2 linked regions of the Homo sapiens genome follow. The protein of the gene in region 1 interacts with the protein of each later gene in a pairwise test. Each region holds a gene or a part of one and is shown on either strand. Other genes may lie near its edges.

What was found.
Region 2: the proteins of GPR137B (region 1) and TRIM32 interact in binary tests that used the Homo sapiens proteins (3 or more experiments, as listed by UniProt).

Annotation. Positions count from the first base shown.
Region 1 is NC_000001.11:236,145,479-236,152,762, forward strand, and holds part of GPR137B (integral membrane protein GPR137B), read left to right. Parts: intron 1-7,284. UniProt on the Homo sapiens protein: Lysosomal integral membrane protein that regulates the localization and activity of mTORC1, a signaling complex promoting cell growth in response to growth factors, energy levels, and amino acids.
Region 2 is NC_000009.12:116,697,303-116,702,081, forward strand, and holds the end of TRIM32 (E3 ubiquitin-protein ligase TRIM32), read left to right. Parts: intron 1-70; exon of another isoform or gene 71-131; intron 132-359; 5' UTR 360-440; coding exon 441-2,402; 3' UTR 2,403-3,997; downstream 3,998-4,779. UniProt on the Homo sapiens protein: E3 ubiquitin ligase that plays a role in various biological processes including neural stem cell differentiation, innate immunity, inflammatory resonse and autophagy.

The sequences.
Region 1 (7,284 bases):
CTCCTAAGTAGCTGGGACTACAGGTGTGTGCCACTATGCCCAGCTAAGTTTTGTATTTTTAGTAGAGACAGTGTTTCACCATGTTGACCAGGATGGTCTTGATCTCTTGACCTTGTGATCTGTCCACCTCGGCCTCCCAAAGTGCTGGGATTACAGGTGTGAGCCACCGCACCCGGCCAAGAAAGCACACTTCTAAGCAATTGGTTATATTTATTTTTACCAGAACTCTCTGAAGAAAGTACCGGTATTGTCCCCATTTTCCAGAGGAGGAAACTGAGGCTGAGAGGTCGTAGATGACTTGCTCAAGGTCACACTGTCAGTGCATGGTGGAGCTGGGATTCAACACACATCTGTGCTGTCTGAGTGTGAGGTTTGTCTTTTATGTACAGTATGTGAAACCTCTTTTTATTTTATTTTTTGAGATAGAGCCTTGCTTTGTGGTGATCTGGGTTCACTGCAACCTCTGCCTCCTGGATTCAAGCGATTCTCCTGCCTCAGCCTCCCGAGTATCTGGGATTACAGGCACCTGCCACTGCACCTGGCTAATTTTTGTATTTTTAGTAGAGATGGAGTTTTGCCATGTTGGCCAGGTTGGTCTCAAACTCCTGACCTCAAGTAATCTGCCCACCTCGGCCTCCCAAAGTGCCGTGATTACAGGTGTGAGCCACCGCGCCTGGCCATGAAACCTCTTAACAATGGGAAAACATACCCAACTCTAAATCTAACCTCGTGTTCTCCTGGAGCGCAAAATCAGGTTGCAGAGAATCAAAGTATACATACAGCACAGTTAAGGCACGATTTGCGGCACTGAAGGGAATGGTTATTGAAGCGTCAGGAGACTTGAATGAGACATGAGTCCTCTGAGAAGAAGCAGGTGTCTGGAGGCTGAAGCTGGGTGGGGAGGAAGAGAGGATGGTGGGAAGGAAGTCGTGGGGGCAGTTTGGGAATTGGGAATGAACTGGAAGGAGAGGTCCGAGATGGGGAGGAAGCTTTTTTCTGTTGTTGTCAGTCCTTTGTGCTTTTGCAGGGTCCCTGTACCTGGGCCTTACTCATCTCACCCTCCCTGGTGACCCAGAGGGTACTGTTACCCCCCAACTGAGGCTCGGAGGGGTGAGAACACTTGCCCACACTGCCCCGTCCGAGCCTCCGTGCAATGCACACGATGCTGCAGTACGCAGCCCCGGCTGCCCTTGGGTACACATCTGAGGGTAATGCGATCATGAGCAAGCTCAATTTGATTAACTTACCCCTAAATCACTGCTTTTAAATTCTGCCATGTTAAGTCTCTTTCCACCCCTAATGACCTCTCAGGCAGATCCTATGGCTTTCTAGTCATACTCGGTAATTATTATTATTTTGGAGTCTGGCTCTGTCACCCAGGCCGCAGTAGTGTGATCTTGGCTCACTGCAACCTCCGCCTCCCAGATTCAAGCAGTTCTCCTGCCTCGGCCTCCTTAGTAGCTGAGATTACAGGTGTGCGCCACCACGCCTGGCTAATTTCTGTATTTTCAGTAGAGACAGGGTTTCACCATCTTGGCCAGGCTGGTTTTGAACTCCTGACCTCAGGTGATCTGCCTACCTCGGCTTCCCAAAGTGCTGGGATTGCAGGCGTGAGCCACTGTGCCTGGCCCATACTCCTTTATTAAATCTTTACGTCTGATTTAAAGCTTCTCCCACACTGTCCAAGGCCAGCCAGGCTTCGAGCTGCAGGGCTTGGTGCAGAGGGTGTGCCCATGCTCTCAGCCTCTCCCCTTCCATCTTCCCAGGCAGCCCAGGGGAGGGGCACACTCTCTCGTGACTGCCAGCGTGTCGGCCTCTGGTCTTGCTCTGGCGCCGCCTCTGTGGGTAACTGCCACGTGGCCATGTTGACATGATGGACTTCAGCTTCTTCCTAGCCCCATCTTTGGTCTCCCTTCCATCCCAATTCCTTCTTCAGGGGGCAGCCACATGGCTTTAGGCCCCTTTTCGAAAAGCCCTTTTAGGGCTTTTTCTTAGAAAGCCATGGGATCACTGAGGCCCCTCCACTCCCACTTGGCCACATGGGTGACAGGCTGGATGCCTAACTAGCGTCTTCAGGACCCTGCACCTGGCTGCTTTTCACTCCTTGCGTGCCTAGGGGCCCTCCCACCTGTAAAAATCCCAGGTGGAAGCAAGCATCACCCTCCAAGTGCCTGGTGCCTCCAGATCACCAGGGCACAGGTCAGGCTCCACCGGGACTCCACCTGCAAACAGTCCCAGCTCAGCAAGCATCTGCCCGGGCCCCCTTCCTGCCCAATCCCTGTGAGCAGTGTCCATGTGTCTTTCTCCTTTCTGACCTGGGGTGAGGTGCCCTGCTGGTAGCAGGCTGTTAACTCTTTTTCTCCATCTCCACTCTCCACCTTCCAGTTCAGCCTGGGAACATGGGGAGGCGGCTGTGGTAGGACTGGTTCTGCTAACTCTCTCCGGGCCGTCTGTATGCAGTGTCTGTCTGGCCCCAAATGTTTGGAACATGGAGTGCTGACTACCTGTTGTTTCCAGCTGTGGCTCCTTGTGCCAGCTTTGGGGAACAGCTGAGCTTCTGCTCCCGGCTGCATGAGGAAGTGGCGGGACCAAGGCTTTGCACCAAGGCCTTTGACTCAGAGCCTGTTCTAAGCGCTGTGTCAAATCACCATTTTAGTGGGGACTTAGGAGAGGGGCAGGACTCTGAAACCTAAGGCAGGCAGGGGTCTCTGCTCATGAGGAATTATGGTGCCTTCTACCTCCAGGTTTCAGGATAGAGGCTCAGAAGCAAAGGCGGTAGCTTCTGTGCCCAGGCAGCTCCTGGGCAGACAGGTCTGTGCCCTGCAGGGGCAGAAGTTGATGTGGCGGTGGGCTCGGTGACACCTCGGCAGCCACGTATCCCAGCCCTTCTTCCTCGGAATTCCCAGCCTGGAACTCAGACTCTCCAGATTCCCGAGTTTGGCAGGATGGAACAGGCTGGTTCAGCTTTGTCTTGGGCCCTATGACAAACTCCTGCCATTGCAGTCACATGGTTTGCGGAAGGAAATGGAGAAGCGAGTTCTCTCCATGGGGAGAGGTGCTGTGATGAATGGACACTGATGTGGGAACTGAGACCTGAGACGTCACCATGCCTTGGAGGGCAGATGGGAAGCTGACATTTATCGGGGTCTGGTCTGTTCTGTTCTGAAACTCAGCTAGGGACTTCCACACCCTCCACTCAGCTGCAGCAGGGATGGTTCGTGAGTCATGTGGTCCTGTGGGATGGTGCCAGGGGCTCGTGGTGAGGGCCTGCGGCTCATGGTAGGGGCTCATAGTCGGTGTTGGGAGCTCATCATGGGCACTAGGCCAGCAAAGCCTTATGAATGAGGAGGCAGCCCTGGGAGTGAAGGAGCAGGGTCCCTGGGTGCAGATCTGGGTTCCAATCCGGGCTTTGCCTCCAGTGTGGGTCCCATGGCTGGTTACCACCTCTCTAAGGCTGCTGCTTCACCAGGGAGACAGAAACTGTAATACTCATCCCATGGGTCGGAGTGGGTTAAAGGAGATGCCGTGTGTCCTGAATCCCTTTGCTCCTCTCCTCCCTTAGTTGAGATTCTCACTGTGTGTTGCCTACAGCTCTGAACCTAGGCTCTTGCTTCGACACCCAGCCACTGTCCTGAAGGTCAGGTCCCCGGGCTGACCCTGCCCTTTTCCAGCCTACTGTGCCATCAAAATTACTTTTCCACCAAACAGCAGCTTTTCTGTTTGTAAAACGGTGGTGACTCTTGGCGCACCCGTAGGGAGCATGTGGCAAGCCTAATCGCAGTGCCTGACATGAGAGCAGAAGGCACTGGGGGTCCAGCAGCCCAGCCCCTCCTTTGCAGATGAGCCGACCAGAGGAGGAAATTCTCCCAGGCAGCCCAGCCAGGCGTGCAGAGGCAGGACAAGTCCCGTGTTTCAGGCTGACCGATCCGTGCTTGCTACAGACGCCACACTCTGACTTGAAGTGGGTCATAGTCCTCATTCTTGCTGGTAGGGAACTAAGAGGCCCCTAAAAGTCGAATCCAGGAACTAGTCCTCCGTGCTCACCAGGAAAGGGACGTGGGTGATTGTAGGAGTAAGGGGCTTCGGCTGTGGCTCTTGGCGGTCAGTTTAGTCAAGACGTGTTTATCAAATACCTGTCGTGTGGCAGGCCCTAGTCTAGGAGTTGTGAAGAGGGAAGCTTCTAGGCCTTTTGGTGATTGTAAAGAAGTAAGAGGCTTAGGAAACAGACAAGGCGGGCCAAGGGCAAGGACTGTGCTCAGCCTGGCCTCTGGGCCCTGCGCCCATGGCCTCAGCCCCTGGCACCGGCTCCCTGCGGAGCTAGCTCAGTGGGCTCATGGCCAGCCAGAGTTGTGTGTGCACCTAGGTGTGCGCCTTTGTATGTGTATGTGCATGTGTGCCTGTGTGCACCTGTGTGTATGTACATGTGTGCCTGTGCACGTGTGGCTGCGTGCACCTGTGTGTGTATGTGCATATGCGTGTGTGCCTGTGTGCACCTGTGTGTGTGTGGGGTTTGTGTATGTGTGCCTGTGTGTGTGCCTGTGTGTGTACCTGTGTGTGTGTGTGCCTGCCTCTGTGTGCCTGTGTCTGTGTGGGTCTCTGAGTGTCTGTGCATGTGTGTGTCTGTGCCTGTGTATGTCTGTGCCTGCGTGTGCCTGTGTGTGTGCCTCTGTTTGTGTCTGTGCATGTGTGTGCCCGTTTGTGTTTGTGTGTGTCTGTGTGCCTGTGTGTGTGTCTGTGCCTGTGTGTGCCTGTGTATGTCTGTGCCCGTGTGTGTGCCTGTGTTTGTGTGTGTCTGTGCCTGTGTGTGTCTTTGCCTGTGTTTGTGTGTATGTGCCTGTGTGTGTGTCTGTGCATGTGTGTGCCTGTGTGTGTGGAAAGGTTTCCTTATTTTCTTGGTCTGCCGTTCACCCCCAGCACCTCCCGCAGGCCACTTTCTAAACATACAGCCCAGTTTCCCGAGCCCTCTCCTCGAGCCATGGCAGCGTGCTCTTCTCTCTGCAGCTGAGGCTGTGACCGCATCAGTGCCTCGGTGATGCCCTGCCAACCGAGGGGGAACTAAATCCTGTTAATGCCCTCAGCACTCGGGGAACAATTAGGCCCCTCACAGCACATTCAGCATCCAACCCCAGTGACCATGCAGGAAGCCTGGACTTCCCCACAGCAGAGGCTGGGCTGAGGCTGCTGCCGGGTCACCATCAGGAGCGCCCTACTGTCGGCTCCGAACACTGTGGCACCTGCAGGCTTTGCTACGGCTTCTTGCTCACCTGCCTTTCCGTAGTCAGACAGGCAGAACTGGTAGTGACCAGCAGGGAGGCAGGGCCGGAGCACTGTCCTGAGGCTAGTGCAGGTTCTCAGTGGAGTTCCAGGGCCCAGCCATGGCTGTCCCGCTGCTGCTGTGCCCACCCTCTGAGCCCCAGGCTAGCTGCTCAGCGTTGAGTGGCGGGGAGTGGAGGGCAGGGGTCATGACAGTGAGGGGTGGGCTGCCCAGAGAGGAACATTTGCAAGATCCAAGACCCTCTACAAAATCTCACTGCAAGCGTCTTAGGGTTTTGCAAACAACAAAGTCATGTGATCCCAAGAGCCGCTTTTGTCAGGCTGTTCCTGTTGGCCTTGCGTTTCCAGTGAGAAGAAGAAAGCTGGTTCCTGGTTGGAAGGTCTGTCTGGGTCCTGACATTTTGGCCGGCCAGTTCTCTCAGTACAGAAATAGCCCCAGCAGACTGTTTAGACAGTACCTGGGACAACAGGCATTCCCCGAGGGCTGCAGAGGCTCATAAATATTTCACTTTTTATGTTTCCTGCAGCTGAAGCTTAGAGTCCATTAACCTATAAGGACAGATGAAGCCCAAATGGTTTTACTCTGCAAGTGGGTTGATTACCTCAAGCTTATGTGGGTCAGGATTTTAGGCCTGTGAGCCACATATGGTCTCTGTTGCATATTCATTTTTTTTTTTTTTTTTTTTTTTTGAGACAGAGTCTTGCTCTGTCGCCAAGCTGGAGTGCAGTGGCGCAATCTCGGCTCACTGCAACATCTGCCTCCCAGGTTCAAGTGATTCTCCTGCCACAGCCTCCCGAGTAGCTGGGACTACAGGTGCCCGCCACCATGCCCAGCTAATTTTTGTATTTTTAGTAGAGACGGGGTTTCACAATGTTGGCCAGGATGATCTCGATCTCTTGACCTCATGATCCGCCTGCCTCGGCCTTCCAAAGTGCTGGGATTACAGGCGTGAGCCACTGCGCCCGGCCTCCCTCCTCGATTTTTAAATGGCATACACACTTGCGAGGCTGAGCTACGCAGTCTGCAAAACACAGGGTGAAAAAACCCCCATACACGGTGGGGTTGGCTCTGTGGGCTGCTCCCACCCCATAGGCTACTCTCCCTGTCACCTTGGACTCTGCTGCCACAGCTTCTTTGTAGCTGTCAGAGGTCATGTTGTCCCATCAGGCTGTGTGACGGTCCATTTTTAGTGCATGAGTGGTGGCAGATAAGGAGGGAAGTGGGCAGGGTGTGAGCAACCTTGGCGTGCCGTGAGCCTGGCCCCATCAGGCCCACACTCATTTTCTGGGAAGACAGCACACATCTATCCATGCGAGAGGGCCTCGTCCTCCCAGCTTTCACAAAGCAACATAAAGTTCAACTGGAACATGGCGATTCATTTCATTTATTCAACAGGTGTTTTTTTTTAAATTAAAAAAATTGTATTGTCTGGGTGTGGTGAATTACACCTGTAATCCCAACACTTTGGGAGGACGAGGCAGGAGGTTCGCTTGAGCCCAGGAGTTCAAGACTATCCTGGGCAATATAGTGAGATCTCATCTGTACAAAAAATTAAAAAATTAGCCAAGCATAGTGGCATGCACCTGTAATCCCAGCTACTCAAGAGGCTGAGGTGGGAGGATTGCTTGAACTTGGGAGGTCAAGGCTGCAGTGAGCTGAGATCGCACCACTGCATTCTAGCCTGGGTGATAGAGCGAGACCTGTCTCAAAAAAATGTATTGGGGCTGGACACAGTGGCTTATGCCTGTAATCCCAGCACTTTGGGAGGCCGAGGCGGGTGGATCATCTGAGGTCAGTAGTTCAGACCACCCTGGCCAACACGGTGAAACCCCATCTCTACCAAAAATACAAAAATTAGCTAGGCGTGGTGGGCGCCTGTAATCCCAGCCATTGAGGAGGCTGAGACAGGAGAATTGCTTGAATCCGGGAGGCAGAGGTTGCAGTGAGCCAAGATCGCACCGTTGCACTGTAACCTGGGTGACAAGAGTGAAACTCCATCTCAAAAAGAA
Region 2 (4,779 bases), on another chromosome or scaffold:
TATTTATCTTGTTACTTAGCCCTTATAATAACCATATAAGGCAGACACCATTATTACTTCTATTTTACAGATGAGTGATGGGGAAAGAGCTTTTGGAAGTTTGAGTTAATTCCTTATGGTCATGCAGCTAAGTAAGTGTCTGAGACTACAGAATCTGAATTATTTCCCACTATGCAGTGTTTTGTCTGGTTTGTTTCCCTATCTGTCACCCTCACGTGACATATAATAGACCTCAATAAAATAGTTGTTAAGTAAGGGAATGACTGAATGACTGGTCATAGCTATTCTCTAAATGTTTCTTGAGTGAATTTATTTATATAGTCAGAGGAAAATGAATAATGGTTTCTTTTTCTCTTTAGCAGGAATTTGACCCTCTAGGGCATGAATACTGTGCTGTTCAGTTCTGAGCTGTGCTAGCAATACCCTTCAAAGGAAGAGCAATGGCTGCAGCAGCAGCTTCTCACCTGAACCTGGATGCCCTCCGGGAAGTGCTAGAATGCCCCATCTGCATGGAGTCCTTCACAGAAGAGCAGCTGCGTCCCAAGCTTCTGCACTGTGGCCATACCATCTGCCGCCAGTGCCTGGAGAAGCTATTGGCCAGTAGCATCAATGGTGTCCGCTGTCCCTTTTGCAGCAAGATTACCCGCATAACCAGCTTGACCCAGCTGACAGACAATCTGACAGTGCTAAAGATCATTGATACAGCTGGGCTCAGCGAGGCTGTGGGGCTGCTCATGTGTCGGTCCTGTGGGCGGCGTCTGCCCCGGCAATTCTGCCGGAGCTGTGGTTTGGTGTTATGTGAGCCCTGCCGGGAGGCAGACCATCAGCCTCCTGGCCACTGTACACTCCCTGTCAAAGAAGCAGCTGAGGAGCGGCGTCGGGACTTTGGAGAGAAGTTAACTCGTCTGCGGGAACTTATGGGGGAGCTGCAGCGGCGGAAGGCAGCCTTGGAAGGTGTCTCCAAGGACCTTCAGGCAAGGTATAAAGCAGTTCTCCAGGAGTATGGGCATGAGGAGCGCAGGGTCCAGGATGAGCTGGCTCGCTCTCGGAAGTTCTTCACAGGCTCTTTGGCTGAAGTTGAGAAGTCCAATAGTCAAGTGGTAGAGGAGCAGAGTTACCTGCTTAACATTGCAGAGGTGCAGGCTGTGTCTCGCTGTGACTACTTCCTGGCCAAGATCAAGCAGGCAGATGTAGCACTACTGGAGGAGACAGCTGATGAGGAGGAGCCAGAGCTCACTGCCAGCTTGCCTCGGGAGCTCACCCTGCAAGATGTGGAGCTCCTTAAGGTAGGTCATGTTGGCCCCCTCCAAATTGGACAAGCTGTTAAGAAGCCCCGGACAGTTAACGTGGAAGATTCCTGGGCCATGGAGGCCACAGCGTCTGCTGCCTCTACCTCTGTTACTTTTAGAGAGATGGACATGAGCCCGGAGGAAGTGGTTGCCAGCCCTAGGGCCTCACCTGCTAAACAGCGGGGTCCTGAGGCAGCCTCCAATATCCAGCAGTGCCTCTTTCTCAAGAAGATGGGGGCCAAAGGCAGCACTCCAGGAATGTTCAATCTTCCAGTCAGTCTCTACGTGACCAGTCAAGGTGAAGTACTAGTCGCTGACCGTGGTAACTATCGTATACAAGTCTTTACCCGCAAAGGCTTTTTGAAGGAAATCCGCCGCAGCCCCAGTGGCATTGATAGCTTTGTGCTAAGCTTCCTTGGGGCAGATCTACCCAACCTCACTCCTCTCTCAGTGGCAATGAACTGCCAGGGGCTGATTGGTGTGACTGACAGCTATGATAACTCCCTCAAGGTATATACCTTGGATGGCCACTGCGTGGCCTGTCACAGGAGCCAGCTGAGCAAACCATGGGGTATCACAGCCTTGCCATCTGGCCAGTTTGTAGTAACCGATGTGGAAGGTGGAAAGCTTTGGTGTTTCACAGTTGATCGAGGATCAGGGGTGGTCAAATACAGCTGCCTATGTAGTGCTGTGCGGCCCAAATTTGTCACCTGTGATGCTGAGGGCACCGTCTACTTCACCCAGGGCTTAGGCCTCAATCTGGAGAATCGGCAGAATGAGCACCACCTGGAGGGTGGCTTTTCCATTGGCTCTGTAGGCCCTGATGGGCAGCTGGGTCGCCAGATTAGCCACTTCTTCTCGGAGAATGAGGATTTCCGCTGCATTGCTGGCATGTGTGTGGATGCTCGTGGTGATCTCATCGTGGCTGACAGTAGTCGCAAGGAAATTCTCCATTTTCCTAAGGGTGGGGGCTATAGTGTCCTTATTCGAGAGGGACTTACCTGTCCGGTGGGCATAGCCCTAACTCCTAAGGGGCAGCTGCTGGTCTTGGACTGTTGGGATCATTGCATCAAGATCTACAGCTACCATCTGAGAAGATATTCCACCCCATAGGGGATGAGAAATTATCAGTTTCTTCTGCTCCCAAGCCAACTTCCCTTCCCTTAGTTCTTGGTTGTTAGTGGCACATGCAGAATAGACTCAGCCTATGTCCTGATTCCAGCTGGGTAGTTCTAGAACTTCAGAAGCTCCATCTTTTAATGTTTTTATTTGTTATGTCCCCCTCCCCGCTTCCCACCTAAATTTAGAGCTTTAAAAGATGCACTGCCCAAATAGGACACACGATGGTGTTAGCTGAAGTTTGATTAGCAATTAGGCACTTCCAAGGCTTTAGTAGAGAGAGCCACTTTAGCCCTTTGTGCCATGTTTGAAATTTGCCCTTGTATTAAATCCTTGATTTTTTCCCATTTGGCTTTGATGCCCTTGATCCATTGTTTCCTTCCTACTATAATGTGCTTCATCTGTGACACTTTCTCTTGAACTCTGATTGGATTCACTGTGCATGCTTCAGTGGGATCTGCTCCACCTTTCAGTGACATTTAAGACATCATATTCCCGTAACATTATGTCTCAGTCTGATCGTCTTTACCAGTATGAAAGTCATTCATTTAGTGCTACCAAAGGGGATACACAAGCCCTTTAGGAAGCAGTACCTCTCGCCTGGAGGATCTGTGCCATCTTGGATTGAGAATTGCAGATGTGACAGAATGGATTGACCCTAGTTGGTTGGTATTGATGACTTCAGCCTGGAAATTGCTTGCCTTTTAAAGAAGCATATATGGGTTGGAATTATGCCAAAGCATAGGAAGCTGGGAATAAGCAAACAAATGCTGATATAGTCAGCAAATTTGGATAGTCTCTAGGGCTCATCATTTTTCATACTACCTCTCTCTTCTGGCCTGTGTCTAAGGAATTGTACAACATAGGCCAGGGCCAACAAAGTGGAGAGGTGGACACATTTTCATGTTCATTACTAAAACAAACAGCAAAACTATTGGTTTGTTATTCTGTGTTTTCCTCAAGTCAGTACATACTATTTGGTTTCAGGATTTCTTTCCATTTCTCTATCAAGCATTAAATAATTGAGAACTGTTTCTTCATCTCTGGTGTTCATGTCTTTTAATTAAATACGGAATTTTGGAGATGATAAGAGGGATAACCTGCGCTATGCCATTTTGCTTCCTTATCTCACTGTGTTCTTTCAGAGTGTAGATATCTACCCAGGTCAAAATTCAGCCAAAAGCACTATTATGTAAAGATAATAATCCAAATCTTTCTCCCAAATACATGTGTACAGAATCATCCCCCAAGGTTTAGAGTCACCAATACCCTATTCTGAGCTTCTGCTGTATGTTTTATGTTTATAATTACAGTTCACAAAAAGGAAGTTAGTCTTGTTTTTAAGATCAGAAGTGGGTGAGAGGACCTGTGATGAGGTTCCTGAGGGTTTGGTGTTTACTAAGTAATATATCTTACTCTAGGTGCAGGGCTGATGGCAAGCCAAAGAGCAACTGCCTTACTTTGATGTAAACAAAATTTGCTAAACTGAGCTGCTCAAAATTGTTTTTATGGTAGTAGTGTTTCTTTGGATTGTATCATAATAGCTGCCAAAGGATAGGTAAAGAGGTCATTAAAATGATGTTGAACTAGTTTGTCTTGTTCTTTTCATCTGGAGAAAGCCCCATATTCTGATTATGAAATTGCATCCGATTTTCAAAGATTGGGTAATTGAGAGGAAATTGATCCAATTGAAAGTGCATCACAAATGACTCCACTAGTTATTAGAGCCACTTTATCTGTGGGGGCACCCAGCAGCAGGAGATCTGTCTTTGCTGTCAGTGGGGGACTTGCTGAGGCAATAACAGTGGCTCAGGCCTTTGGCACACAGTTTGCAGTGGAGAGAGAAATATAATATTGTGGGCAGGCTGAAGGTAAATGAGGCCAGGAATCCTCCAGCTGTCTGTGCTTTTGAAAGAGGTGCCATCACTGAGTGACATTCAGCATTTAGATCTCTACCCATCTAAACCAGTCATGCCTTTTCCCTCAAGTAAAGCAGTTATCTGTTGGCTCAAAATGGAAGTGTGATCTGAGTCTTTTTCCTTTTTCCCCTTTGATGTGAATATTTTAGGCTGTGCTTAGTACAGTCGATGTTTAATTATCTGCTGTGTTGACTAAATTGCAGACTAGGGCCCCAAGAAACTAATTTGTTCAATTACAGCAGTTTTTTGGGTTTTTTTTTTTTTTTTGCTTTGTTTTTTAAAGCAGCAGTACCCTTGTCCAAATAAAGTCTTATATGGAAGTCTATCATGTAAAATAGATCAAAGAGCAGCTGCTCTGGTTGAAGCAGGTTTGTGCCGCTGAAGAATATGCTGTTTCCTCCCTTTACCTTACCTCCTGTGCTACCATTGCAAAACTTGTGAATCTACAGAAT